Regions from separate parts of the Homo sapiens genome. Here all the other regions are linked to region 1. The links come from fine-mapping of genetic effects on gene expression. A gene starts in region 1. Each other region holds a variant in brackets. All regions are shown on one strand. Distances are from middle to middle.

Region 1 (8,183 bases):
AAAATATAAAAAATAACTGAACACTCTAAGCACTTTTTCTCCCAATAAAGCAAAAAAAAAAAAAAAAAAAAAAGAGAGAGAGAGAGAAAGAAAATTCCTGCTAGCAAAGGGAAAGCAGAACGGTAAATAAATGCCTATAATCCCAGCACTTTAGGAGGCCGAGGAGGGTGGATCACCTGAGGTCAGAGTTCAAGACCAGCCTGGCCAATATGGTGAAACCGTCTCTACTAAAAATACAAAAATTAGTTGGGCGTGGTGGCAGACGTCTGTAATCCCAGCTACTTGGGAGGCTGAGGCAGAAGAATTGCCAATAAGGGGGAAAAACTCAAATGTCCATGGATAGTCAAATGGATAAAGAAAACATGGACCAGGCACAGTGGCTCACACCTATAATCCCAGCACTTTGGGAGGCCAAGGTGGGCGGATCACTTGAGGTCAGGAGTTCAAGACCCGCCTGGCCAACATGGCGAAACCCTGTCTCTACTAAAAATACAAAAATTAGCCAGGTGTGGTGGCAGGCGCCTGTAATCCCAGCTACTCGGGAGGCTGAAGCCAGAGAATCGCTTGAATGCAGGAGGCGGAGGCTGCAGTGAGCTGAAATTACACCACTGCACTCCAGCCTGGGTGACAGAGGTAGACTCTGTCTCAAAAAACAAACAAACAAAAAAAACCCCAGAAGTATAAAAAAATTTAATCAATAATCCTGAAACTGATGTTTGTTACAAACACTTTCTTCTTCCTCCTCTATCCCTAAGCAGGTTCAAGTAGCAATATCTTTCCTTTTTAGGGAGAATACTATTCTGGTTATTTTCAAAACCTATTATTATAATAAATACTATATGCGAGGCCTTGTGCTAAGTGCTCTATATACACTATCTCTTAAAATCGTCACTGTGATGACTAATGTATTATTTTCATTTCCATTTTACAAATGAGGAAAAATCCTAAGCTTAGGACACACAATCAGCAAATGGTATAAAGTGGAGATAAAAAGCCAGGTCTGTCTCCATAGCCTGTGCTAATAAACTGGAGCAATATTTTCTTAGCTTTCTCTTCTTAAAAGACTGAAGTTCACATGCTATTTGGAATAAATACACAGAAAAGGGGCACAGGAAGTGGTGCAGAAAGAAGCACTTTATAACTTATCAAGATAAGAGCACCTGCACTGCTTTTTTAAAACAAGGAAAAACCCTGCAATAATATAAAACCCCCAACTCTTTTCTGGCCCTGTTATTGCTAAAATGGACAAGTTGGTCAGGCACCACCTACGGACCATAGCAAATAAATCACTTTGGTTCAGTGGTGGGGAGGACATTATGCAACACTTCCCAGCACAGCCCTGGCCAGGATATTTTACGGCCAAGGCACCTCCTCCCCAGCTAGACAGCCTGGCTCCTTCACATTCCCCTCAGGAGATAGGGTGGAAGCTCACAGCTCCACTTTGTAAGGCATAGAGGGCAGCTGAAAGTCCTGCTTGGCCTCTCTGGGCAACCACAGGCGCCAATAAATCAGCCACAGGCGATTCTCTCATTCCCTTCCCGGCTGAAACAGGAGCAAGATATAATGCAAAACAGCACTGATTGGACTTGAGAGATAAGCGATCTAGGCTTAAATTCTACTGCGAATGACTGTATTACCACAGCCCAGGTAATGAGCCTGTTTCCTCAGGCTTGTAACATGAAGACAGTACCATCTCCTTTTTGGTAAAGACACAAAGTTCATCTACGAAAGCAGCTAGTATGATACTTGGCCCACTGCAAGTACTCAGTAAACAGCGGCCAACTTGAGCAGAATCCATCTCTACTACATGCAAATAAGACATTCAAGGTAGGACTGGACAAAAAAGGTGTTAGCAGGTTACGTGGGTTCCTTTCTGTTTTCTTCCTGACCACACCTTGATATTTCACTGACTGCCAGCTCTCAGAATTAATCTGTTCCATGTCATATCCCATCAGTGTTCTGTTCCCTATTAAGGAGTTGATGTCCGATAACGGATTCACGATTTACCCTTAACTAAAATATATCCAGATTGTTAAAGAAGACTTTGATGCCTTAACATAAGGAAGCAACCAATGCTGCAAATAATAGAGAACAGCAATGAAACTTTCAGGGGTGGCTGGGGGGTGTAGGCTTTTAGTTCCAAAAATACACCATAGGCGGCCTACCTCACCTAGAAATACCATCAAACCCACACAGTGGCCATGCCTGACTTCTCCATAACCTGAATCAAGCCAAGTATATATAATGACCTCCGCCGGATACATTCTCTACAGGTGAGTGGGGTAAACTGGCACTGCGGTCCTGGCATGGTGGAGAGTGCAATCACCAAGGTGTCTGGAGCCTTGGAGTCTTAGCTATCAAGAGGTGTAGCTAGCTCCAGCTACATCACGCTCTTCAGGCCTGGTGTCTTCTCTGTAAAACGAGAGGGATGAAACAGATTTTCTATAAGGCACCTCTCGGCTCTAAAATTTAAGATTCCAAAGTGTACTTTACATACATGACAGAATCTTGTGAGAGGATCAACAGCTCTGCCAGGACTTGAGTCTCAAGAGAAAGAATGCCAAATTTAATCCCTTGGGGTGATGCGGGCGCTAACTGTTGAAACATGCTAGGTGCCGTCAGGTTCCAGGTACTACGTTGTGCTATGCGCTGCCTCCGCAACTGGTAACAACTGATTACTCCAAATACTGAGTGCCAGAGAAGACGGTGATAAGATGGGTCAAGCTTCAAAAAGAAAAACCGGATATGCTTAGAACAAGATAAACATAATTTGAAGATAGAAAAGGGGGGGATGTCTTCTTGCCCTAGAAACGAGGTAATCACAAGCTGGGAGTGGAAACAGTAGCCGCAGCGTCCTCCCAGCATCTGGAAAGTCGCCCGCTCGTAAGAGGGGTCGGCGCTACCCGAGGGAGGCCGCAGGCCTACTGGGGTTTCCTGCTGGGGGTCGCACCCGGACCCGCGGCCGGGACGGCTCTGCACCTTCGCGGCACCCCGTGTGCCACCCTGAATCAGGCCCCGGCAGCCGCTCCTACGAGCAGCAAAGGGTGGTTCTGGGTATTGTCGGCCCAGCGCTCACTCGCGGATGTATTTTCCTCCTGTGCCCTGCCTGACATCTCAATCGGACCAAAAACACCCCTCTCCCCAGCTACTTGCATCTGTCCCGCGACTGGTGCAGCTGCAGGCCGCCGCCCTGGGTGGCTCGCGGCAGGAGGGACTGAGCCCGGGGCAGCCCACAGGGGCAGGACCGCGTCGCTTACCCAGATGCCGCCGCGGCGGCAGGCCGACTCCTCCGTGCAGGAGGGGCGGGCTCCCAAGCCGCGCACTGCAAGCAGTGGCGCCGGCTCACGCACCCCTCGGCCGCCTCTCGCGCGGCTTCCCGCGCCGGCAGCCCGCGATGGCCCCACGTGACCGCGTGTCTGGTAGCAGGGGAAAGAGGGGCGCCAGGGCCGGGGTGTGCGTGCGTGCGTGCGTGCGTACGTGCGCGCCCTCCCGCCCGCCCGCCTCAGTGGCCGGGCGGGGGTCGGCCCGCGCTCTGAGTGCCGCCGCCACAGTTCGCAGTTGTGACTCTGTAGGCGGAAGCATAGGGACAAGCCTGAGCGTCACAGGCTCCCCACAAACAACCGCGTGACCCGGGGACTTTCCCCAGGGTGTGCAAAAGCACAGGCACCCCCTCAGTTCTGGGGTGAAGGTGGGGGTGGGGAAGGATGCGCCCGCGTGTTCGCTGGGGAAGGGATGAGGGCGCGGGGCCAGGGAGGCCGAGCCGCGGGAGCCTGGGTGGAGAGGCGGACTGGGCGAGGTGGGGCATGGCGGGGGAAGTGACTCAGGGCCAGAGGCAGCAGGCCCACGGAAGGTGGGGTCGGGGGGGCGCGGGGACTGGGCGACCCTGAACCGACGGGGCAGGGCGAGGTTGCCGGAGCACTCGAGGCGGACCGCGAGTGACGGCCCAGCTGCTGGGCCCAACGGGCAGGGGTCTGACATCTGGACGGAGTGGGAAAGCAGCCTCGCATCCTGCCCTGGGGAGTCGGGAGGAGCCCAGTTCCATCCAGCTGTGCAAACAGGAGGAGGAGGAGGTCCCAAGCCTACCCTTGAGAGGGGCAAGAGGGGTGGTCAAGCCGCCGCCGCCGCGACGGCCCCCGCGGTGCGGGTTGCGCCAGCCTCCTCGGAGCTCGACGCAGAAACTTGTTGCAACAAACAGGCGACCGCGGGTGCCCCTAGCAGCCAGCGGCAGAGTGGGTGGGCGGGCGAGAGGGAGGGGAAGGCTGGCGGACGCCGCAGCGAACTGGTGGGCAGACCCGGAGTCGCCGCGTAAGCGGGGCCGGCTCAGTGCGGTGCGGCAGGCGCGGCTGTGCGGCAGCGGAAGTCCTTTGTTGCAGCACAGTCCCTGGCAGAGCCAGAGCCTCTCCGCGCAGCCCAGCCCGAGCGCCGAGCGCCGCGCGCCGCCGCCACTGCAGCTCGCGGCCCCTTCGCCTTCGCCCGCCTTTCCCGCGGCTGATTTGCCTTAAACTCCCTAAAATCTCCGCAGCTCTGGTTCCTGTTGCGGCCGGTAAGTATTTGCCAGTTGTGGGGCTATTTGCGCAACTTTGGCCCAGGCCGGAGGGCGACGGGCCGCGGGCCTGGCGGAGTGCGGGGCCGGAGGGGCGCCGATCCGTGCGGGGAGCCGGAGCGCGGCGGACGCGCTGCGAGGACCCGGTGACGGGCGGCTGCCAGGCCGCCTGCTTGTTGCCGGCGCGTCAGGTCCCGGGCGTGCGGCCTCCCTGAGTCGGAGGCGAAGCCCCTACGGAGACTAGTTCCCAAATTAGTTACCTTCTTTTCTTTCTTTCTCTGCCTTTATTTTTTTCGAGGGGGGAGGGGAGGTGTAGACGGGAGGCGGGAGAACCCGGTTGATTGACGTGCCTAGAGCCCGCTTCTCTCAACTTACAGCTGCGGCTCGGCGGCGGGTGGGAGGGGAAGTGTCCCGGAGCCCGAGGCTGCAGACTTGGGCGCGCTCCGAGGGAGGAGGCGTAAGATCCGTGCAAATTCTTGTTACGCTGTTTCCCACCCCCTCTCGCCGGCACACACGCTTTTTGTTCAGTAAAAAGTGGAAGGTCTGAGTTTGGGAATTTTAAGTGGAAAAGATCTGTTTCTTGGGAAGGGAGTGCTTTCGCTTGCAGCGGTGGGCGCTTACTAGAAGTTCGGTAAATGTGTTGGATGCAGATCGGGAGTCGTTACTACTAAAGTATGTAGGCAGGGTCTGAGCTCAGCCACCCCACCCAGTCTCCCTTTCTACCTAAGCAACGCGTGTACATGATCTGAAGGGTTGACATGACATTTTCTAAATTGGGCGAATCAGGAAGAGGTTGATGAAAATCCTTGACGTTTTCTGGGGATAGGACATTTGTGTGTGATAACGTTCTTAAGTCGAATTTCAGTGTGGCAGTGCACGCAGATTCTTCATTGGTGTTAGTGTATTTCCATACGGTATGTATCAGTACAAGAAATAGTGTTCCCTTTGACACTCGAACCCAAGGAGTGGTCCGAGGCTTTTTGAGGCAACGTAGGATCAATGTCTCTGAAGCAGATTTGGTGAAGGATGCAGGTCTCATAATTTACAGAGCAATCACAGCCTTCTTTGAAACGGAGAAATTAGATTCTATGAAATTTTGTCAGTGCAGATAGATATGATGTGGAGAAACGGGGAAAATTGAGTACAAAAAGATGAGGCTTGAATGATGGCTGGCCAACATTTGCTCAGAACCTCAAAACTTTGCTTTTGAATCACTTGCTGGATATCTAATAAAGTCTCAATAATAACTGGATGACTTTGGGAGCTAGAAAGGGGGTTCCTCCTCTTAAAGAAACAGGAAACTGGGCCGGGCGCAGTGGCTCACGCCTGTAATCCCAACACTTTGGGAGGCCGAGGCGGGTGGATCACCCGAGGTCAGGAGTTCGAGACCAGCCTGGCCAACATGGCGAAACCCCATCTCTACTAAAAGTACAAAAATTAGCCTGGCGTGGTGGCGGGCGCCTGTAATCCCAGCTACTCAGGAGGCTGAGGCAGGAGAATCGCTTGAACCTGGGAGGCGGAGGTTGCAGTGAGCCGAAATGGCGCCACTGCACTCCAGCCTGGGCAACAAGAGCGAGACTCTGTCTCAAAAAAACAAACAACAACAACAACAAAAACAGGAAACTGAAGCATAGTAGAGGTGAAATGCTTTTCCAAAGGTTAATAAACATAACGTCTACAGTAGAGTCTTCAGTTAACCTCTTACATTCGTTTTATGAGCAAGCAGGCTTTCTCCATTAATACCACATTTTCATGGTATTGAATAACTCAGGTTGAACAGTCTTTCCTGAAGCCTTTCTATTCTTCCCACTCCTAATACGATGGCCTACTTTTTTGGGGTTTTTGTGGGGAAGGGACTGGTGTATCATTGTCAGAGAAAAGAGAAACCATATTTAACCAGGGCCTTAGCAGGGCATGAGCACAGTCACAGCCACTTGCTCTTGACCTTGTGCTTTGATTTCAGTTTAACACTTCTAAATTTTTGTACTGCTTCCTCATTCTCCTCTTTTGCCAGGCTCTGGGGAAGATATAGTTCATCGACCTTTTTAAGAGTATCTCGTTTTCTTTGTAGCATCATTTCCCTTTCTAATGTGCAGGAGAAAAGAAGTACCTGCTTTCAGACTTGCCCTCTAGCCAGGAAAAGCACTAAGCCTTTGGTGCAAAGGAGAGGAAACTATTTGGTATAGAAATACAGAAAAATTTCCATAGATTTTTGTTAATAAGCTGCAATCTGTTGTCTTCCCAAAAAAAATGAGGTATATTTGAGAAACATCTTCTTGAGAGGTCACTTTGGTCTCTATAGAATGTTTTCTCCTGACATTTTCTTCTGTGCTAGTATCTCATGCTAAAATGGTGAAATTATTTTTTCTCATATTCTTATGTGAACCAAATTAAGGGTTACTCGTGTCTATTTTTTCTCAAAATGGAAATGTTTTTTATTATAAAATCCATGCTCTTTGAAAAATTCAGCCTGTATTGAAGTACATAAAATACAAAAATGAAAGTCATTTTGACTCCCACTCCCCAGAGATAATCACCATGTACAGTTAATTCCTTGTTTAAAACGAGAGAAGGCAACATTTGATCACAGCTGTGTGTGCCTCACTCTGCCTGGGGATGGCCTGTGGTGATTCATGGACTCATGTTCTCTGTTCACATTACTCAGGTTGGTAAGAATTGCCAGGTAGAGGAAAGGGGAGTGTTTTGCATTGGGCTGATTTAAAATTATTTGATTAACTGGGCTGCTATTTTAGGTTTGTCCTTATTAAATACTTACTGTATCATGGTGGGCTATTTTTCATACTTTGTTCATGTTAATGTTGTTGCCCAGCCTCTGATGGATTGATTTACAGCAGCCAAACACATGAAAACAAAAGCAAACCCTCACCTTTATAGAGAGTTTCATAATTTATAATTAGGAAGGAGTGGGTATACTTGCCATGAAGACCACTGCCAATATATCCCTGTGCTGATATGGGATGGGGTTCCTCTTGATCAGCACCAAAGATTGCATGCTGAACATATGGAAAGGAAATTGGACGAAAGAAGGGTCAATGACCGCTGTTTTCAGATGTGGCATGGAAGAGACTGATACTGGGGAGGAAGCGGCAGGGTCTCACTCCTTAGCCATGTGTATTTAAGAAGAATGAACTGTGAAGAAGTTGATGATGATCTAAAAACAGAGCCCCAAAATAGTACATAGAAAGTTAATTACAACATTGGTTATTTGAGAGTGTTGGGGACGTGGGTGGTTTTTATACTACTCTGTCTTTGAATTTAAAATAGTTTTCAAAATAAAATTTGAAGATTAAAGAATTAACCAGATTTTCTTTTGTCTATATGAGATGCATGCAGTCGTTTTTAGAGATGAGTTCCATCCCCACTTTGAATCTGAAGTATTAGAAGAGGCATGCTCTGGTGGACAGTGGGGAGTTAGCAGATGGAAGGGGATTTAGGGAAGGGACTGGACATTCTTCCTGCAAGATGGAGCAGTAAGAGAATGATGAGAGCTTTTAGATTCATGAAAAAGGTGACTCTAGGAGGCTTAGAATGTTCCAAAGGGGCACTTCAGCTAATAGTCATATTCAGAAGAGTGTTGTCTGGTTTACACAAACTGAAACTTAGGGCTTTGAATCAAGAG
Region 2 (8,183 bases), 120 kb after region 1:
AAAAAAATTAAGGAAGAGTTATTCAAGAAAGGAAGGAAAACAATCAAGCTATTCTACACTGTGTGAAAGTGAGGGTGAGCTGAGCCCTTCCAGGGGCTGACGCTGTGGCCCCTTCCTTTACTTTGAAATGCTTCCTTTCTGCTTCAACTGGTTTAACCAAATAACAGAACCCTGTTAGGCTGCAGGCCTACCCCTAAATCAAATGACGATTTGAACTCCTGAAGGTGAAGGAGCCCCTAAATCCCAGCTCCCCCACGCTGGCCCCAAGTGACCCAATACATGCATATATAGTCTCAGAAATAAGAATAGCTCATTTCAGAAGCTGGGGTCAGGTGTGGGGTTGGACAGAGGGTGAGCCAAAGGCTAGCCGGGGTGGAAGGTGAGGGGCAGGAAGATACCCCAGAAAGAGCTGCCGAAGAATGGTGAAGATTTGTGCAGAGACTCTTATAGGCTTGAGGAGGTCAGACAACAGGCTGCTCTGTTTGTCTTGTAGGTAGGGGCAGAAAGGCAAATAGAAGGAAAGAATCCAGAGCTGATCTGCCCCACCCTCTGAGTTCCATATTGAGCCTTTGTAATCCAATAGTAAGATTCTCCCTGAGGCAACAGACTCTTATGTCTCCCCGCTTTCACAGCTACAGGGATTTCATACTTTAAACTCTGCACATGGAGGGAAAATAACAGGAAGGACATGCGCGGTGAGCTCTGTGACCTTGGGTCTCTTGTCGGTCTCAGTGCCTCTGCGCTGTTTCCTTGCACTTGACCTGGGTGTCCTGGCTGCTGCCAACTCCGGAGCCAGCTCTTGCCTCGGCTCACCAGCTTCTCCCCGCACCCCCTGGCTGCACTTTCTCTTTTTGATCTCTATGCTAACAACAGCCCAGGCAAGTCAGGAGTACCACGGGGCCTGCCCAGGCCCTTCTTCTGGATCTGGAGCAGGAGGGAGGAAGAGGCAGGAGCCCAGCATGTGTGAGGGGTGAAGCCAGAGGAGAACACTGGGAGTGCCCCCCGACTTGCTCCGTGAGGGCCTCTGCCGGGTCTGAAGGGCTGCTCAGGAAAACATGCACCTGAGCCAGTGGCCCTGGGGCTCTCAGCCTGCCTGGGAGCTGGGAGCCGGGAGCCACTGTAGTTTGGTTTTTGTGTGGGAGTTGCCTTTTATTTTTACCTGTGTATTTATTCATCTGGATTGTATGATAACTCTAAGAGGACAGGTCTAGTCTTCACCACTGATACAGTTTGGCTGTGTCCCTACCCAAATCTCATCTTGAATTGTAGCTCCCATAATCCCCACATGTTGTGAGAGGGACCTGGTGGGAGGTAATTGAATCATGGGGACGGTTACCCCCATGCTGCTGTTCCTGTGATAGTGAGTGAGTTCTCATGAGATCTGATGGTTTTTAAGGGCTTTTTTCCCCCCTTTTGCTTGGCACTTCTTGCTACCACCATGTGAAGAAGGACATGTTTGCTTCCCTTTCTGCCATGACTGTTAAGTTTCTGGAGGCCTCCCGAGCCCTGCTGAACTACGAGTCAATTAAACCTCTTTTCTTTATAAATTACCCAGTCTTGGGTATGTCTTTATTAGCAGCATGAGAATGGACTAATACAAACACTATCAGCAAGAAGTGTCATAATGGCACTGCCAAGGGGAGGTGCCCAGTGAGGCTTTCTTCAAATGAAAAGACAATATAAGCTTCAAGAGGGTGAGGTGGAGGGGTTTGCTGTTTTATTTATTGCTGTAACCTCTAGTCTGGGGGTGGGGATCCACTGTGCTATGTTAGAAGCATGATAAGGGAAAGAGAATCACCATCTTTACTGTTCCCATAGGTGTAAAAACCACTTACAGTTCCTTTGTCAGGAGTATTGGAGACCTATGTGCTTGTCACATAGTAGGTACTAAGTAAATATATACTTTTTATTGAATTAAGTAAGCATTTACCCTGATATAGGCTAGAAGCCTTTTTAAAAGGTTATGACCTGGAGAAAGTCATGGCAAAATTTTTGCAGAGCCCAAATTCCAGATCACTCCATCCATTTAACATTTACTGAGTGCCTACTATATGCTGGGCACAATAATAGATGTTTGGGATACAAAAATGAATCAGATATGAACCTGTCTTCAAGAGGGCCACAGGAGGTTTTTTAACTAAGGGGAAAAAAAGCATTGCAGGAGTTGGGCAGAATCAGAGAGGTTGTTTAGAGAAGTGGATAAAAGCATGGGTCCTGGCCTCAGGCAGATGAAGTTTTAAATATTTATCTAAGCCTAAATTTTCTTATCTGTAATGAAGGATAATCATCATTTCTGTTTATTGTAAAGGTTGTTGTGAGAATTAAATGAGCTAATGCATGAGGCTCACTTTGCACACGGCATGGCTTGCACTAAACACAGTAAACACAAAGGGTCCTGATATGGTTTGGCTCTGTTTCTCCACCCAAATCTCATCTTGAATTGTAATCCTCACATGTCGAGGGAGGGACCTGTAATCCCCATGTGTCAAGGGAGGATGATGATTGGATCTTGGGGGTGGTTCCCCCATGCTGTTCTTGTGAGTTCTCACGAGTTCTGATGGTTTTATAAGTGATTGGAAGTTCCTCCTTCACTCTTCTCTGTCCTACCACCTTGTGAAGAAGGTACCTGCTTCCCCTTCCACCATGATTGTAAGTTTCCTGAGGCCTCCCCAGCCATGTGGAACTGTGAGTCAATTAAACCTTTTTCCTTTATAAATTACCCAGTCTCGGCTGGGCAAGGTGGCTCACACCTATAATCCCAGCACTTTGGGAGGCCAAGGTGGGTGGATCACCTGAGGTCAGGAGCAACATGGTGAAACCCTGTCTCTACTAAAAATACAAAAATTAGCCAGGTGTGGTGGCTCATGCCTGTAATCCCAGCTAATTGGGAGGCTGAGGCAGGAGAATAGCTTGAACCCAGGAGGTGGAGGTTGCAGTGAGCCAAGATTGCACCATCGCACTCCAGCCTGGGCAACAAGAGCAAAACTCCATCTCAACAAACAAACAAACAAACAAAAATTACTCAGTCTTGGGCAGTTCTTTAGAGCAGTATGAGAACAGATTAATACAAGTCCCATAGAAAGAGCAGTGTGTTTCACATGGGGAGGCAGTGGTCACAAAAGACTCCTCAGTGGGGGACTCAAGCGAAGTCTCCAAGGATGAGTGGAGGTTCAAGTAGGCAGAGAGGAGGGTGTGTTAGATGGGACGATGTCGAGGAGAACGATACACAGTTCTTCTAGGTCCAGCAGATGAAGGAGCCCCAGGAAGCCACTGGGGGAGGGCTCAGTGCAGAAGCTGCCATGACTACTCCCTACCCAACACACAGCCTTTGGCAGTTTCCGCTCCCCTCCATGGGATCTCTGTAGTGTCACCTATGCATTTAGAGCACCCTGAACCACCACACTGACCCCTAGGATGTGCTTCAGCTACATCCCCAAGCACATGGAAGATATGCACACAGCAATGGGGTGACCATTTGTGAGTTGTCAGACTTCAGCAGGGCGGGGCCAAACACCACCTGAAACTGCCTTGGTGCCAGGCTCTAAGCATTTCACCTATATTAACTCCTTTAACCCTCACAATGAGCCAAGAAGGTAGGTACTATTATTTGTCCCATTTTATAATTGGGAAAACAAAGGCACAGAGAGGTGATGCACTTTGCTTGAGGTCACATAGCTAGGAAATGGTGGAGGAAGGCTTAAAGACAAGGCAGTCTAGTCCAGAGGTGGGGCTTCTAGCCACCATCCTATGCTGAAAGCATGATAAGGGGTAGAGAATCACAGTCTTTACTGTTTCTATGGGTGTAAATACCACTTCAAGTTGCCTTTTGAGGAGAGTTGGAGACCTATGTACAGCTCACTGAAAATCTAAAGACTATCTGCACACTCTTCCCAGAAAACACAAGGTTGCAAATGTAATTCTAGTGGGTTGTGGGTCCCCTGAAGACTATCTGTGGACGCTACAGGCCTGTGAACTTGAGGTTAATGGGTGTGAGATTTCCAGTGTGGCCTGGAGACAGGGGTGGGGGAGGGAAGTGCGTTTGCTGGAGAGTGCCAAGCAGGGGGCAGACTGGTTCTGAGGCCATGGCCAGGCCCAGCTGAG[C/T]GCAGATGATGTGCTAGCCAGGCTGGCCGTGACTGCGTGCTGCCCAGCTCACTGCTTAGCTCTTTGGAGATGAAAGTGCTCGCCTCAAACTCTGAATCATCCCTTGCTATTTCTTTACATATTTTTGCAAGAAGGAAGTCTTTATTTGGAATGATTCACGAACATCTTATAAATCAAGAGATACACAAAACAGACTTCAAGGAGCTATAGAAACCTACAGAGACACAGAAGCTATAAAAACAAACTGTTTCCAAGGGCCCTGTGCTGTGGCAAAGCATGTCTCACATGCAGGGAAAAGAAAATTAAAATCAACCCTGTAAGAGATAGATTAGAAATCTAGTTAATATAATGCACAGCTATTTTCTTTTTTAATAAAGGGAGTCAAGGTAATACATACACATGATTAAAAAGTAAGAAATTTGGCTGGGGGCGGTGGCTCAGGTCTGTAATCCCAGCACTTTGGGAGGCCAAGGCGGGTGGATCACCTGAGGTCAGGAGTTTGAGACCAGCCTGACCCACATGGAGAAACCCCATCTCTACTAAAAATACCAAAAATTAGCTGGGCGTGGTGGGCGCCTGTAATCCCAGCTACTTGGGAGGCTGAGGTAGGAGAATCGCTTGAACCCAGCGGGTGGAGGTTGTGGTGAGCCGAGATCATGCCATTGCACTCCAGCCTGGGCAACAAGAGTGAAACTCCGTCTCAAAAAAAAAGAAAAAGGTAAGAAATTTGGAAAGTCCAGCAATAAAATCCAACAGCTGCATCTCTCCCCAGCTGAAGTCCCAAACTCTAAACGTAACTACTTTTACTTTTTCTGCTTTTGCTGCTTCTGGGAGCTACCTTTTTCCCTCTAAATAATATGCTTACCTTCTGTTGTTCTGCTCCGACAGACTAGGATTTAGATATGTCACCACCCTGTGACCCCACCATTTCTTTAGAGCTAAATTCCTATTTTTCACTCTATTGCATTGGTTAAGAATGTAACTTTGAAATGCAGTTGGCCCTCTGTACCTGTGTGTCCTGAATTCTTGGGCTCAATCAATCACAGATCAAAAGCATTTGAGAAAAAAAATGACATCTGTACTGAACATGTACAGACTTCTTGTCATTATCCCCTAAACAACAGAGTATAACAACTATTTACATAGCATTTACATTGTATTAGGTATCATAAGTAACCTAGAGATGATTTATATGGGAGGATTTATGATTTATAGTGGAGGATTGCATGGGTTATATGCAAATACTACACCATTTATATCAGGGACTTGAGTATCTGCAGATTTTGGTGGAGGGTCCTGGAACCAATCCCCCATGGGTACCGAAGAACAACTGTATATATACTTAAGTCTCTATCTCTCATTCATTCCACTTTTGCGAATCTGTCTTGTTTCCCTACTGTACAGATGAGAAAAGGAGGTTTGGAAAGATCATCCCTTGCCCAAGACCACATAGTTGGTAAATGGTAGAGCTGGATACAAGCCCAGGTCAGCCCCTACCATCCCCAGACTACAACTACTGTGGTCCCCGAGACATTTTTGCCTGACACCTATCCCTGAAGGGGTCAGCTGCTATTTTTACACCTGTTACTATGCAGAAAGAGAAGTCTCCCCCAGGACTCAGCTCTGCTGTGGATACCACATTAGCAGGTGGAAGAGGGGGGTTTACAGAATGGATTGCAGAGGACAGCAGTTCAGTCCTGGAAGTCTTGGACCCATTTGAATTCCGTCATTCTCTTGTTGCCAGAAGCAGGATTAAGAGTTACTCCAGGTTATTTTAAACCAATAAAGGTTGTCAGGTGGCAGTCTGCTCAGAGGTTCCCTGTTCAGCACTGTCACTCAATAGTAGCAAAAGACAACAAAGGTGTGGAAGTGAGTAGCTCTTTGCCTAGTGTCCTGCCCCAAGTCTGGAAAGACAGTAGAGGTCTCACTGGTGTCACCCTCACTGGGAGTCTCCCTCCTCTATGGAATGGTGGAAGACTGTTCTCATCACTCTTTGATAATTTAAATCCCAGATCAGACCTGGGTACAGCTGATAATAATTGTTTCTCAAGCTTTTTCAGTTGATCTACTAGTAGATCTGAATACAGAGCCCAACCTGTAATCCCAGCACTTTGGGAGGCTGAGGTGGATGGATCACTTGAACTCAGGAGTTTGAGACCAACCTGAGCAATGTGGCAAAACCCTGACTCCACTAAAAATACAAAAATTAACTGGGCATGGTGGCATGCACCTGTAGTCTCAGCTACTCAGGAGGCTGAGGCAGGAGGATCACCTGAACGTGGGAGGTCAAGGTTGCAGTGAGCTGTGATCCTGTCATTGCACTCCAGCCTGGGTGACAGAGTAAGACCTCATCTCAAAAAAGAATGCAGAACTCAAGGCCCATGGCAGCATCTATGTAGTGATGGGCTGGTATATTTTTTTTTTTTTTTGAGACGGAGTCTTGCTCTTGTTGCTCAGACTAGAGTACAATGGCACAATCTCAGCTCACCGCAACCTCTGCCTCTTGGGTTCAAGTTATTCTATGGCCTTAGCCTCCCAAGTAGTTGGGATTACAGACATGTGCCACCACGCCTGGCTAATTTTGTATTTTTAGTAGAGATGGGGTTTCTCCATGTTGGTCAGGCTGGTCTGAACTCCTGACCTCAGGTGATCCGCCCACCTTGGCCTCCCAAAGTGCTGGGATTACAGGCATGAGCCACTGCGCCCAGCCTATGCTAGTAAATTTTTAACAACTGGCTCTCCTTGAGGTGGGGGCTGATATGTAGCATTTACCAATTTCCATAGTGTAAATACTCCCACTATAGTTGATTTTGAGCTACCTGAATTTACTGAACATGAAATTGGGAAGAAACACACAGTAACAATTCATTACAAAGTATTTCCATCATACAAATGTAACAGATATAATAACCCAGAAAACATAATAGTAAAATATAAGAAAATAATTAGAAAATGATGATTTTTGAGTATTCAATACTTTTTAAAAATTTTGGTCATATTTATAATTTGATCTTTAATAATGGCCGTGTTTAACTGGCTCACAAAATTCCTGAAAATTTAACAGCCAGCTCTTGGGAGCTGGTACAAACCCACGTCAGCATGCCACTGCTCTTGTGGCCAGCTTAGGAATTTGCCACTGGAACTATGGCAACGAGTCAGGAAGCTGGTATCAATGAGAAGAAAGTGGCCAGTCTAGAAATCATAAAATGCCCAGGAGGATGGGTTCTGGTCACACCGAGAGAGCAGGCCAGGATAGGCTATATCTCTGAGATTCGAATACAGCTGGAATTTTATTCAGTGTACTCAGATGTGCAAAAAAGGACAGGCTTCTTTGTGATTATTCTTATCTTCCTCTAAGGCTTCTATTGCCTCTGGTGGGGGCAGAGGACTTCACTTGTCTATGAAAGGTAACTCAGGAGAACTAATTTTCTTTCCATTTAGTACAGTCTCTTCCAGATGATCTCGGCCCCTCTTGAATAATGGTCTAGTCTTTCCAATCTCTCCCCACCCCCTTGCTTGTTTAGCAAAGCTGGTGCGATATTTGCTAACACTGCCGTAATAAAGTGCCACAGATGGAATGGTTTACACAATAGGAATTTATTGTCTCTCACTTCTGGAGGCTGGAAATCTGAGTTTAAGGTGTTGGCAGGGTTGGTCCCTTCTGAGGGAAGGATCTGTCCCAGGCCTTTGTCCTTGGCTTGTAGCTGGCTGTCTTCCTCCTGTGTCTCTTCACATGGTGTCCTTCCTGTGTGCATCTGTCTCTGACTTCCCTTTTTTTTTTTTTTTTTTTTTTTTTTTTGAGACAGAGTCTCGCTCTGTCGCCCAGGCCGGACTGCGGACTGCAGTGGCGCAATCTCGGCTCACAGCAAGCTCCGCTTCCCGGGTTCACGCCATTCTCCTGCCTCAGCCTCCCGAGTAGCTGGGACTACAGGCGCCCGCCACCGCGCCCGGCTAATTTTTTGTATTTTTAGTAGAGACGGGGTTTCACCTTGTTAGCCAGGATGGTCTCGATCTCCTGACCTCATGATCCACCCGCCTCGGCCTCCCAAAGTGCTGGGATTACAGGCGTGAGCCACCGCGCC
Region 3 (8,183 bases), 180 kb before region 1:
AACACAAGAACAGAAAGCCAAATACCACATGTTCTCACTTATAAGTGGGAGCTAAACATTGAATACACATAAACATAAAGGTGGGAACAATAGACACTGGGGACTACCAGACATGGGAGAGAGGGGACATGGGATGCAAAATCACCTATTGGGTACTAAGCTCATTACCTGGTGACGTAACCCAAACCTCAGCATCACGCATTATGCCCATGTAACAAACCTGCACATGTACCCCTTAATCTATAATAAAAATAAAAATTATTATTATTATTATTTGAGACAGAGTTTTGCTCTTGTCACCCAGGCTGGAGTGCAATAGCATGATCTCAGCTCACTGCAACCTCCGCCTCCTGGGTTCAAGCCATTCTCCTGCCTCATGCTCCCGAGTAGCTGGGATTACAGGTACCCACCACCATGCCCAGCTAATTTTTGTATTTTTGGTAGAGACAGGGTTTTGCCATCTTGGCCAGGCTGGTCTCGAACTCCTGACCTCAGGTGATCCACCCACCTTGACCTCCCAAAGTGCTGGGATTACAGGCATGTGCCACTGCACCTGGCCTGAAATTATTTTTTTAAAGAAGAGGGATGCTTACTGGCTAAGTGCAATGACTCACACCTGTAATTTCAGCCCTTTGGGAGGCTGAGAAAGGAGGATAGCTTGATCCAGGGGTTTGAGACCAGTCTGGGTAACATAGTAAGACCTTATCTCCACAGAAAGGAAAAAAAAAAAAAAAAAAAGATCCTTATCTTCACTAGTAGTCAAGAAAATGTAAATTACAATAATAATGAGGTACCTTGTTTTTTGTTTCTTTTTTTACCCAACTAACAACAAAAAAGAATGACAGCATTCAATGCTAGCTGGATGTAAAGGAGAATGATTTACTCTTAAATGAACTGCTTCTATCCTTTTGCAAATAGTAATCTGACAATGGCTATTAGAATTTAAAATACGCACTGTGACCCTATCAGCTCATATTTGTCAATTAATCCCCTAGCAACAAAAGCACCAGTGTGGAAGGATATAAGTTGAAAGATACTTATTTTCACATTATTTGTAGTGACCAAAAGAAGGAAATAATTATATCATCCCTCAAAAGAGAAATGGTTGAATAAATTAAGATACATGCATACTATAGAATATTATACAGTTATTAAAGGAAGAGCTATATCTTTTAACTTAAGATACAACCATGAGGCACTACTAAGTAGAGGAAGTTGCAGAATATTTTTATTAGAATGATCTTAGTTTTGTGAAGACACCATTACCCTTTATATATGTTTACATATTTCCATAACTATGGGAATGGTTAACATTGGTTACTGAGGTGACATGGGCAGAGAGAAAATTATTATTTCCTTTAAACTGTTTAGCATAGCTTTAAGTGTTGGGGTAGGCACATGTTATTTTGTTTTTTGTTTGTTTTTTGAGACAGGGTCTCACTCTGTTGCCCAGGCTGGAGTGCAGTGGTGCAATCTTGGCTCACTGCAACCTCTGCCTCCCAGTTTCAAATGATTCTCCCACCTCAGCCTCCCAGGTAGCTGGGACCACAGGCATGTGCTACCGTGCCCAGGTAATTTTTGTGTTTTTAGTAGAGACAGAGCTTCACCATGTTGGCCAGGCTGGTCTTAAAACTCCTGACCTCGAGTGATCCCACCTCGGCCTCACAGAGTGTTGAGATTACAGGTGTGAGCCACCATGCCTGGCCAAGCACACGTTATTTTGTACAATCTTAAGAAAACTTAATAAAGGATTATTTTTATTTGCATGGATTAACCATTCAATGTATTATTTCCATACACATATTCAAAGGCAGAGGTGGAGGCTAGATGAGATGATATATTTATCTTTAAACTCTATATGGTCTACTGTTGACCTTACTTCATTAAGTCCTATTTTGTTTGTTTGTTTTGAGATGGAGTCTTGCTCTGTCGCCTAAGCTGGAGTGCAGTGGCACGATCTCAGCTCACTGCAACCTCCACTTCCCAGGTTCAATCGATTCTCCTGCTTCAACCTCCCAAGTAGTTGGGATTACAAATGTGAGCCACTACACCTGGCTAATTTTTGTGTTTTTAGTAGAGACAGGGTTTCTCCATGTTGGCCAGGCTGGTCTTGAACTCCCGACCTCAGGTGATCAGCCCACCTCAGCCTCCCAAAGTGCTGGGATTACAGGCGTGAGCCACTGCCCCCAGCCAGTCCTATATGTTTGTAAAATCTGTGGTTGTTCAATAAGTATTGAATAAATGAATGAATAAGCAAATCATTCAGTTTGTGAGTAAAAGAAATGAGTGCGGTAGCCAGACTTTTAAGATGACCACCAATGATCTGCACCGCGCCGCCTGGTACCCTTATAGTCTCGAACAACATTGTATCAGGTTGGTCTGTTTGACTGATAGAATATGGCAGAAGTGATGTTATGTAACTTACAAGAAGAGATTATAAAAGACACTAAACTTTCCATATTATATTGATGGTTTTATCTGTCAAATATGTACACAGTGAAAAAACTGAAGATATGGGAAAGGGCATGTTTTTTGATAAAATTAGAAGCATAACTCTAAGGATTTTTCCCCCTCACTTTTCCAATGTTAAGTGAAATATAAATAGTTTTTATCAGCTTTCTACACCAAATAAAGTTAAAGTTATTAATATTAGAATAATAAATAGTTAATTTCATTGCCCAAAATAACATCTATAATTCAGGAAAGTCTTTTTTCATAGTCTAATCTTTTAAAACATCATTAAAAGCAATTTTTCCTTCCAGGTATTTCAAGGATCTTTTGTTGTTCCCTATACTTTTCTTCAAGTTGGAATGATTCACAAACAGCTGTTCATAAAGATGATACAGCTGTTCCATTTGCTGAGTAAGCATCTGAATTTCCTGCTGAAGATCTTCTGTTCTCTATAGAAAAAGAAGGAAATACTTCCTGATAGTTAACAGTTACGTTTAGAGTGACATTGTGGGGACAATAAATTAGTAAATAGAGGCTAAAGGAAGACTATTAAGACTTGACATTTAAAAATTAATTTAAAAAGAAGTGGATCTGATACACAATAGTAAGACATTTTAGTTTGTAGAGTAATAAAGTCATAAAATAAGTTTTCAGAGATCAGAGGTTAAAAAATTATAGACTTCTGTTAATAGATGTAGCAGATGTCACTAGCATATTGAAACCTGATAGCCATATTCATTACATTCCACTGTTGATGGAGTGGAATTGCTGAGTCACAGGGTAGGATATATTCTGGTTTTAGGGATACACTTTGGTTTTAGGAGATATTGACAAATGCATTTCCAAATGGGTTGTACCAATTTAATCTCCTATCAGGAATGTAGGAGAATCCCGTTTCCTTGCCTAGCTCTGACATCATTTTAACCACATGCAAAATCCTCAATTATTTAACAAAAGAATGTAATACCTTCTGTTTCCAACCCACACATCATCCAAGATCTCCTGTCCTTTTATGCAGCTCTGGGATCTGAGTAAGCAAGTTTAGTTTCTGGACTTTTGTTGAGTAAAAGTAGGAAATAAGAGGAGAGAAAATTATTCATGAAATGATGAATTTGCATTAGAAAGAAGGTAGGAAAAAGAGGAAGGGAAGAGAAATTATGAGCAGCATAGACTGGATCTGGGAGAGTTTTTTAAGAGAATGGAGAGTTAGGCACAGGAGAAAAAGGTTTAGGATGTGATGTGAGAGATATAGTGAGAAAAGTTAAGAAAATGAAGGTGTTATTGTAAATTATGAATATTCCACCTTTTATTAAGAAAATTAGTTAAGGCAAATAATTAAGATTGGAATTACAGTTGACCCTTGAAGACCGATTTGAATTGCATGGGTCCACTGATAACGTGGATTTTCTTCTACTTCTGCTACCCCGGAGACAGCAAG[A/AC]CCAACCCCTCCTTTCCTTCCTCCTTCTCAGACTACTCAAAGTGAAGACGATGAGAATGAAGACCTTTATGATGATCCACTTCCACTTAATGATTAGTAAATATATTTTTTCTTCTTTATGATTTTCTTAATAACATTTTCTTTTCTCTAGCTTTACTGTAAGAATACAGTGTATAATACATACAACATACAAAATATGTGTTAGTCAACTGTTTATATTACTGGTAAGTCTTCCAGTCAACAACAGGTTATTAGTAGTTAAGTTTGGGAGGAGTCAACAATTATACACAGATTTTTTTTTTTTTTGCATGATGGCCATATCCCCTAACCCCAGATTATTAAAGGATTAACTGTACTGTCAACTAGTTTTGACAACTGAAATATTCTTTTATAAATGGAGCCAACACATAAATTGGATCATGTAGACCCTTGCTTTACATACAGATTACATTAAAAAGTGGTTATAGTCGAAGGAATTTGAAGAACACTTCCTCAGTACTATTTTACTTCCTCAGCAATATTTTACCCCCAACAGACTTCTATAAAATCTTCTCTTTTTATTCTTTTCTACTGACTACTCCTCAACCCTCCTTCACTCAATGAAGATTTGGGGCCTCACATTCTTCTTCTATACCAACTCATACCATAATTCAAGATTTCAGGGGTCACAGTAGATGATCGATCCAATAATACAGCTTTGTGATTCATGTGTGTACTTAATTCCAATGCCCTACACCTACACTCATTTATTATTTAATTATTTATTATTCTAATATTAATAACATTAACTTTTTTTGATGTAGAAAGTGGTTGTTAAAGCCAGATCATTCCAGCTCCCAAGAGTTGATTATTCATATCTCTTTCTAATTCTATGCTCAATGACATGTTGGTATCAAAAGTCAATGAATGCTCAAATTGGGTGCTTTTTCTCAAGAGCCAGTTTACCAGCACATGACTGCCTTTATACCCTACTTCAACCACCTACACCTAGATCCAAAAACAACCCTGGATTTTGTCATCAGCAGGAATTGCCCCATACCAGAAATATGAAACTCCGCTATCTTATTCTGTAACATGATCTCAGCTTTCAGCTTTCTCACAGCCCTATTACCCCTATACCTTTCTCTTCAGTATCACAGAGACCTTTAGGCCCCCCTTGCATTTTCTCTTAATATATCAGAAAGGCATAAAGGCTCCCAGTCAACCACGGTATAAAGGAACCATGGCTTCCTTCTACCCTCCCTTTGGGAGAGAACCAACAAACAACTCAACATTTCTCGATTACCTCCTAGAGTTAAACAAGATAACAAAAATTGTTTTTCTTCAAAAATCAATCAAAACTTATTCTCACCTTCATCATGAAAATATTCATGGTTCCTTGTCCTTTCATATTCATATGGGAGTGAATCTGTTGGCATCTACCAATTGATCTAGAATGGGTTTTTTTTGTTCCACCTTTTCTCTTTAAACCAGATATACCTTGTGTCAATAGACTGAAAGATATGAGTAGACTAAAGTAATTCAAACAATTTTCAAATGTCCATTCCAAAATTAAAAAGAAATGTCCCCTTTTAAAATATATATATAGTTGGCCAGGCACAGTGGCAAACGCCTGTAATCCCAGCACTTTGGGAGGCTGAGGCAGGTGAATCACCTGAGCTCAGGAATTCGAGACCAGCCTGGCCAACATGGTGAAACCCCATCTCTACTAAAAATACAAAATTAGGCCAGGCACAGTGGCTCACGCCTGTCATCCCAGCACTTTGGGAGGCCAAAGTGGGCAGATCACCTGATGTCAGGAGTTCGAGATCAGCCTGGCCAACATGGTGAAACCCCGTCTCTACTAAAACTACAAAAATTAGCCGGGTGTGGTGACGGGCTCCTGTAATCCCAGCTACTCGGGAGACTGAGGCAGGAGAATTGCTTGAACCCAGGAGGCGGAGGTTGCAGTGAGCCAAGATAATGCCACACACTCCAGCCTGGGCGACAGAGCAAGACCCCACCTCAAAAATACAAATACAAACACAAAAATTAGCTGGGTATGGTGGCATGTGCCCATAATTCCAGCTACTTCAGAGGCTGAGGGAGGAGAGTCACTTGAACCCAGGAGGCAGAGGTTGCAGTGAGCTGAGATCACACCACTGCACTCCAGCCTGGGCAACAGAGCAAGCCTCCATCTCAAAAAAATAAAAATAAATAAAAACAAAATATATGTATAGTCAAAATATATTTCTAAGGCCGGGCACAGTGGCTCAAGCCTATAATCCCAGCACTTTGGAAGGGCAAAGCGGGTGGATCTCCTGAGATCAGGAGTTTGAGACCAGCCTGGCTAACATGGTGAAACCTGTCTCTACTAAAAATACAAAAAAAAAAAAAAAAAAAAATTAGCCAGGCATAGTGGTGTGCACCTGTAGTCCCAGTTACTCAGGAGGCTGAGGCAGGAGAATCACTTGAACCTGGGAGGTGGAGGTTGCAGTGAGCCGAGATCACGCCACTGCACTCCAGCTTGGGTGACACAACGAGACTTCGTCTCAAAAAAATAAATAAATAATGAAACCCATCTCTACTAAAAACACAAAAATTAGCTGGGTGTGGTGTTGCACACCTGTAGTCCCAGGTACTCAGGAGGCCAAGACAGGAGAATCACTTGAACCTGGGAGGCAGAGGTTGCAGTGAGCTGAAATTGCACCACTGCACTCCAGCATGGGCGACAGAGCAAGACCCTGTCTCAAAAAAAAAAAAAGATTTCTAATGAAAACAGCTGTTCAGTAATTCCAATAGTCCCAAGAGGGTGTCATTTCAGAAACCATCCTTTTTAAGAAGACATTTGGAGAGCAATATCTGCCTGGGTAGTAGGATAATATTATAAGGATTAGGACATCACACACGGTATCTCAGTCCATTTGTGTTGCTATAAGGGAATACTTGAGGCTGAGTAATTTATAAAGAAAAGAGGTTTATTTGGCTCACAGTTCTGCAGACTGTACTAGAAGCATGGCACCAACATCTGTTTTGGATGAGGGCCTCAGGAAGCTTCTACTCAAGGCAGACAGCAAAGGGAAGCTAATTTTTCCATTTTGTAGATGAGAAAACTGGGACAAGAAATATTTAGCAATTTGTCTAAACCTACAATATAAGAGGTAGATCCCAGATTGAAACATACACAGTCTGACTCTAAAGACTCTTTGTATTTCAAAGAAAGTAGCCCCTTGGCTCTGATATTAGTTGCAGATATTTTAAATTCTTATTTAAAAATAAAATTTAAATAAAATAAAGTAACCCCTTTAGTATTAGTTGTAGATATTTTAAAATATTATTTATATTGTAATTCTACTTTAAGTACGCCTACAATTATTGTAGGAGAAAAATGGAAGTAAATAAAGAAATTTGAGAAATTTGAAGGCAAATATTAAAGGTACTGGAGAGTGAACACTAAAGGATCAGAAAGATGCCTTATGATACTGTGTGTGTAGATCACATGGTGAAAGAGAAGGCAAGAGAGAGAGGAGGGGTAAGTACAAGGATCTTTACAACAACGAGATCTTGTGGGAACCAAGAGTGAGAACGAACTTACTCCCTCTAGAAGGGCACCACACCATTCATAAGGGATCTGCCTTAACAACCCAAACACTTCCCACCAGGCTCCACCTTCAACATTAGTGATCAAATTCCAACATGAGACTTGGCAAACAAACAGTATCCAAACCGTAGCACACAGACTAAAGCACTTCTACTACAACAATTCCTGAGTGGAATTCTTTAATTGGGATGTGAGAAGGGGGAAAGGAATTGGAAATAACTACAATAATTTGGGCCAGGCACTGTGGCTCATGCCTGTAATCTCAGCACTTTGGGAGGCCAAGGCAGATGGATCACTTGAGCTCAAGACCAGCCTGGGCAATGTCGTGAAACCCTGCCTCTATCAAAAAAAAAGAAAGAAAGAAAGAAAGAAGAAATTTGTATGTGAAAACTTGTATCATACATACAAACAGCTTAGATACATAAATGACTAATTACATATTTGGATCTTGCTTTGAATACTAATTGCTAGGGAATGATAACATCTCTTTATTCTAAGGCTAATTTAAAGTTTTTTATGTCCTTTTCTATCGTAGAATTGCAGCCAAAAGGATTGGTGAGCCTGAAGTCAAGTCAAGATAAACTACCCGGCTAGGCATGGTGGCTCACGCCTGTAATCCCAGCACTTTGGGAGGCCAAGGCGGGCAGATCACGTAATTTCAGGAGTTTGAGACCAGCCTGGCCAACATGGTGAAACCCCATCTCTACTAAAAAT

Alleles and levels. Alleles are on the strand shown, and positions count from the first base shown. SD is a standard deviation of normalised expression in the study named. Not every link is listed here.
With allele AC in place of A in region 3, the expression in prefrontal cortex of the gene that starts at base 4,367 in region 1 is lower (large effect, 1.1 SD a copy in CommonMind).

What was found.
Region 2: its variant is fine-mapped to the expression of ZBTB1 in aorta (GTEx, PIP 0.92).
Region 3: its variant is fine-mapped to the expression of ZBTB1 in prefrontal cortex (CommonMind, PIP 0.90).

What each region holds. Positions count from the first base shown.
Region 1 is chr14:64,500,404-64,508,586 of GRCh38, forward strand. ZBTB1 (zinc finger and BTB domain containing 1) reads left to right here and starts at 4,367. Exons shown (of 2, transcript NM_001123329.2): 1 at 4,367-4,543. It overlaps ZBTB25 (zinc finger and BTB domain containing 25), which reads right to left and starts at 3,435. Exons shown (of 3, transcript NM_006977.5): 1 at 3,258-3,435. RefSeq lists enhancers at 2,567-2,686, 2,747-2,846, 3,617-3,706, 3,807-4,477 and silencers at 3,167-3,596, 4,197-4,456, 4,567-4,676.
Region 2 is chr14:64,625,025-64,633,207 of GRCh38, forward strand. No RefSeq gene overlaps it. Among named protein-coding and RNA genes, the nearest start is that of PLEKHG3, 75 kb to the right of the region's middle. RefSeq lists an enhancer at 8,094-8,183. The variant C/T (reference allele first, on the strand shown) is at 4,102.
Region 3 is chr14:64,321,800-64,329,982 of GRCh38, forward strand. It overlaps a transcript of ESR2 not described here. Among named protein-coding and RNA genes, the nearest start is that of ESR2, 32 kb to the left of the region's middle. The variant A/AC (reference allele first, on the strand shown) is at 3,890.